2 separate regions of the Homo sapiens genome follow, and region 1 is linked to region 2. Evidence: fine-mapped expression QTL. A gene starts in region 2. The other region holds a variant in brackets. All regions are shown on one strand. Distances are between the middles of the regions. Region 1 overlaps KRT28 (keratin 28). Region 2 holds the start of KRT10 (keratin 10).

Region 1 (2,929 bases), 31 kb before region 2:
GTAGAAGGTGGGTATATACAGAAGTGAAATAAAAACAATTGAGTTTGTTTTGTGCAGTGTTTCCACTGTTTTGGTAGGAACAAAATACATATGCATGTATGAGCTACAAATTATGAATTGTGTGATTTTGGGGATTCTGTATACAAGTTAAATGTTCTTTTGCTTGGATTTCAAACTGGCATGGCACAATATAAAAACTCATAGTAACATGTATGCCAATAATTTAGAACTTTAATTTTTCATTATGATATGGTTTGGCTCTGTACCTCCACCCAAATCTCACCTTGAATTGTAATCCCCATGTGTTGAGACAGGGAAGTGATTGGATTATGGGGGTGGTTTCCCCCTGGTGTTCTCTGAGATAGTGTGAATTCTCACGAGATCTGATGGTTTTATAAATGGTAGTTTTTTCTGTGCCCTCACACACTCTCCCTTTCCCGCCACTATGTGAAGAAGGTCTTTGCTTCCCTTCACCTTCTGCCATGACTACAAGTTTACTGAGGCCTCCCCAGCCATATGGAACTATGAGTCAATTAAACCTCTTCTTTATAAATTACCCAGTCTCAGGTAGTTTCTTTATAGCAGTGTGAGAATGGACTAATACACTTTACTTAGAACAAAACTAAATAGCAAAAAAAAAAAAAAAAAAAAAGAAAAGAAAAAAAAAGAAAGGAAACAAAACAGCAACAACAACAACAACAACAGAAAACCCCAAATCAAAACAACAAAATCCAGGACAAATTGAAAACATAAATGCAGATGCAAGGAAACAGCTTGATATTTTAGTGCCTTTGGGTGATACATTTTTCCTGATTGTTGAACAAGGAATCCTATGTTTTCATTTGGCGCTAGGTCCTGAAAATTATGTAGCTGGCCCTGAATATTGTACATTTGGAAATCATTTCTCTGTGGATTTCTAGTATTTGCTTCATTTGATGGCTTTTGGCTGAAGATTTTGTAAATATCTCATTCTTTGCCACTTCTCTGAATCCCATGTGACTGGAGGATTGTGAGACAGAATTCCTTCTCTTGCTGGAGATTTTCACTGGAATCAGGCCATATACCAGAGAAATAAAGGAGCTGCTTTCCTTTTAGGCAATTTAATATTTGTTGGGAATTCCTACCATACATTTTGATCCAGAAAGGTATAAATAGTCATAATCACAAGAATCATGATGTTCATCAGCCTCATGGGGCTTCACATTCGAGAACAGGTGTTGGTGGGTTAAATTTGGCCTGCTATGTGTTTTTGTACAGACTGTGAGCTAGGAATGGTTTTACATTTTTAA[A/G]TGGTCAAAAAAAGTTAAAAGAAGAAGAATATTCCACGACAGGTAAAAATATTTACAATTCAAATTTCAGCATTAATAAATTAAGTTTTATTGGAACACAGTCATGTTCATTCATTCATCTATTGTCTACGGCTGAGGTTTGTAGTTGAAATAGAGACTTTACGGCCTGCCATGCCTAAAATATTTACTATCTGGGTCTTCACAAAAAAAGCTTCTGACCCCTGTTCTAGGAAAAGTGTCACTAACACAAGCCATATTGCTGTGGATTTTTCCGGAGATTATCCTGTTTAGACGAGGAATGGTATCCTGGGTATTGTGGAAAGAAGAGTTTGAGAGAGGCTCTTGGTAAAATACCAGGAATGCGTCATCTAGTGGTGAGACTTTTCAGTCACAGGAGAATTTCTGAAGTTTTTGATTATTTGCCCACATAGACACGATGTGATTTAAAGATTATGCATAGTGAATGTTTCATATTCAAATGCCATGTGGCGGTATTGACTATTATTTAAAACAACAGTGAAAGGCAATTAAAATATATTCCACAAGTGTTTCTCTATGAATGAGACATAGAAAAAAATCACAAATAGTTATTTATTAGTCATCAGTGAATGGAAATGAATGCACATCAACTTTTTTATTTATTGGAAACAAACACTCAATATCCTGTAAAACTAAGAAAACAGGTATTTTTGCTAAGTAATGTATCTTTAAAAGTAAAAAGTGTGTATATTCTCTCTGATATTTAGAATAATGCAATTGTACAGGATCCTTTCCCAAATTATTCTTTTCTCTAAAATGACAGCTAGAAAGGAACCCTTTGTTCTGTCTTGCCGTTGGTCATTTTAGATGTCTTTTCTTCAATGGAGTGAATCCTTGATGAAAGAACTTTACCACGTTGATCTAGCTCTTCAACCACTGTCTTTACCAGTGTGGTTTTGGATAAATCTAGAAATAAAACATAGGCATACATATATTCAACCAAAAAGATTACATGACAATTCCACTGCTAGTTCAATATAATATATTATGCATATTTTTGATTGAGGGAGTAAGTATATATTTATAATAATAGCTTGGGATAGTTTTAGCCACTTGATACTTCCTATTCAGAACAGTTTAGCTAAAACTACTTAAATATTGACTACGGTTGTAGTGTATGACTGCCATTAATGTAAAAGTATTGCTGTGATAGAAATAGAACTAGAGGGCTCATGCTTGTGATCCTAGCACTTTGGGAGGCCGAGGTGGGCAGATCACCTGAGGTCAGGAGTTTGAGACCAGCCTGGCCAACATGGTGAAACTCCGTCTCTATTAAAAATATAAAAACTAGCTGGGCATGGTGGTGGGTGCCTGTAATCCCAGCTACTCAAGAGGCTGGGGCAGGAGAATCACTTGAACCCAGGAGGTGGAGGTTGCAGTGAGCCGAGATAGCACCATTGCATTCCAGCCTGGGCAACAGAGCGAGACTCTGTCTCAAAAAAATTTAAAAAAAGAAAAGAAAAGAAAAGAAATAGAACTAGATTTTATTACCTTTAGATGAATTCCCAGGGCTTCCTGATCCAAAGCCCTTTGATTTGGAGCATGAACTGTAAAAGAAATATAGTTTATTCTTTTATATTTCTGCTTACTATCGCTTCAGA
Region 2 (2,929 bases):
TGTTATTGAGGGCATCCCAAGTCATTGTTAAAAACCACTGATGTATTCGTTGTGATAGTATTATACAACGATCACTTAACTTACTTCAGCCTGAAGTCATCAGCTGCCAGCCTGGCATTGTCGATCTGAAGCAGGATGTTGGCATTATCAGTTGTTAGGTTGAGAATCTGGAGGGAGAGGCACAGTTATTTGAGAAGAGGTCAGATGCAGATATGGCTTTTGTAGTGACATAGATGCACTCTGCACTTTTATGTTGTTCTCTTACAAAATCTTGGGAAAATTTTTTATTTTAAATATGAAATATTGCAGGCTTACCCATATACTTAACTTTGAATTATTTGTTCTCTTGGAATTTCTCCAGTCTTGTATTTCTGTACACGAATTATTCCTTTCTGAAAACTAACTGGAATTATATAGATGTATTCCTGTAAGTGTGCCCTCCTCTTTTAGACTATGTGATTTCCATGTATTTCAGCCATGCTTTGGCTGACTCACACCTGCATTTGTTTAACTCATGATAAATACTAATAAATAAATACACTCTGAACTGGTACACAATAGGTACAATTCAGAAATTCCTTAGAGGCAAGCAGTGTCCCATTTTCATACTGGAAAATTTATTTTTCTTGCCATGTTGGTACTGAATATGGCTTGTTATCAGTCTGAATAACATTTTGTTCTGATTCATATCATGATTTTTTTTTTCAGTTTCTACATTTGTAAATAGCCTAGCATATTTTAACTGTGGACTCATTGTATGCTCATTAAAACCTCAAAAGTGCTTAGTAAATCTCCCATCCTCTTAAGACAAGTAGCACACTTGCTGGATGAAGATTGCCATGACCATAGTTTCACAGATGTTTATCTTTGATGAGACTGGGTTATTTTTGAAGGAAGAAAGTAACATGGGTAAGCATAGTGAACAGCCACATTGTGCTTAATTTAAGATTCATCTGTCTGGATTACATGGACAAGATACTTAAAGCTGGATTTAAAAATACCTCTTACCTGATTTTTAAGGTCATCGATGGTTTTGTAGTATTTGCTGTAGTCACGAGGCTCCCCCTGATGTGAGTTGCCATGCTTTTCATACCACTCCTTGATTTTGCCTTCCAGCTCATAGTTTGATTCTTCCAGAGCCCGAACTTTGTCCAAGTAGGAAGCCAGGCGGTCATTCAGATTCTGCATGGTTACTTTTTCATTTCCAGAGAGAAGGCCACCATCTCCTCCAAATCCACCACCAAAGCCTCCTCCAAAGCCGCCTCCACCAAAGCCGCCTCCACCAAAGCTGCCCCCACCAAAGCTGCCACCTCCGAAACTGCCCCCTCCAAAGATGCCTCCATAACTCCCACCAAAGCTGCTACTTCCATAGCTTCCACGAAAGCTACCTCCACCAAAACCTCCTAATCCTCCATAGCCACCTGATGAGCCCCCAAAGCAGCCCCCACCAGAGCTCCCACGGCTAAAAGAGCCACCACTGAACCCCCCTGAGCTAAATCCTCCACCAAGGGAGCCTTTGCTGCTAGAAATTCTTAGGGATGACACTCCTCCTCCTCCTCCACATCCTCCTCCTCCTCCTCCTCCTCCACTGCGGGAGGAAGAGTAGTGCTTGCTTGAGCTGTATCGAACAGACATGGTGATGCTGTTTAGCCCAGGGAGTGCCTGCTACCAAGGACAGTGACAAGCCTTTATATACTGAGAGGGTGTGTCCACATGTGTTAGAGTTTGCTTACTTACATTGTTTTCTTTTTGCCAACTTAGCATCTTTGGCTTATGATTGCATAAATTATCTTCAGTAATAACCAATCCTAATATGTACAATTTTGAATTTGCCCTAAGAATAAACAGGAGGTTTGCTATGTTGAAATTGAAAATGGGTGGAGTTCAGATGAGCATGTTTTATTATGCTTTTCACCTGTTGAAGAACATTGAGCAACCGTTAAGATCCATTTTTCTCAGCACTAATTCAGGTTGCATAGAATGTTTGCAAAGTTTAGAAAAAAAAGTTTCAGCTACAAAATTATAGTTAAAATAAGATTTTTCAAATTCATGTTTTAAACAGTTTTAATTGGAGCAACAAATAGCATAAAGTCTGGCAGGATCATGCTACAATAAGGTTCTTGTAGACAACTGTAGGGAATCAAAAAGAAAAAGTTTCTAAAAATTTAACTAGCATCAATAGTTGCCACACATAAAACATTAAAGCCATAAAACCACAATTTAGGAGATTGTGTTTGTAGGAGATCTTTTAATTTATTTGGCAAATGAGAGTATATTGATATTTTGCCTAAGAAAGTGGAAGTAATGATTTTAGAATTTTCTAATTAATGATGGCATTATTTTTAACATTAAAAAATCTGAAATCATAAAGTTATCCTGGATTATTTTGCACTTTTAAATTCATCATAGTTAAGGTTTCTGTGAAGACCATAATAATGCAGAAAATCTGCATTATTTTCTTAGCATGAAATCCGAAGAACTAACTTGTAGTACTTTACACTAAGTTCTGATTGAGTAAAAAGGGAAAATTTGGATATGTTATGATTGCAAGTAAAAATTTGCTTGCAAAAATGTAAATCTATATTAGAGAATGATACTTGCACCAAATATTATGAACTAGACTGTGCACATGTGTTCCCAAGCTAGGTTCAGTTTCTCAATAAAAACAACACATTTTCTTGGATATACTGTGTACAGAATTTGGTATAACAGTTTGTCTAGTGAAGTAAATTGGGATTTTGGTACATTGTATAAGATTATATCTACCCATAGGCTATGACATTGCTGTTGTTTGGATGTATATATTCATACATGTTTTACAATTATGTAGTGCTGTTTGTGATACTGTGCTTTAAAAATTTCTAGAACAAGCTGTTGAGATAGGAATGGTGGTTATTATTATTTCTTTTCTTTCTTTCTTTCTTTCTTT

Evidence for each region. PIP is the estimated chance that this variant, and not a neighbour inherited with it, causes the effect. A credible set is the group of variants that fine-mapping cannot tell apart.
Region 1: its variant is the best candidate, but not a certain one, in a credible set for the expression of KRT10 in whole blood (TOPMed, PIP 0.53).

What each region holds. Positions count from the first base shown.
Region 1 is chr17:40,790,336-40,793,264 of GRCh38, forward strand. It overlaps KRT28 (keratin 28), which reads right to left. Exons shown (of 8, transcript NM_181535.3): 7 at 2,820-2,875; 8 at 1,861-2,234. The coding sequence ends at 2,092. Among named protein-coding and RNA genes, the nearest start is that of KRT28, 8.2 kb to the right of the region's middle. The variant A/G (reference allele first, on the strand shown) is at 1,290.
Region 2 is chr17:40,820,951-40,823,879 of GRCh38, forward strand. KRT10 (keratin 10) reads right to left here and starts at 1,664. Exons shown (of 8, transcript NM_000421.5): 1 at 1,009-1,664; 2 at 85-167. The coding sequence starts at 1,635. All of the region lies in intron 1 of KRT10-AS1 (KRT10 antisense RNA 1), which reads left to right.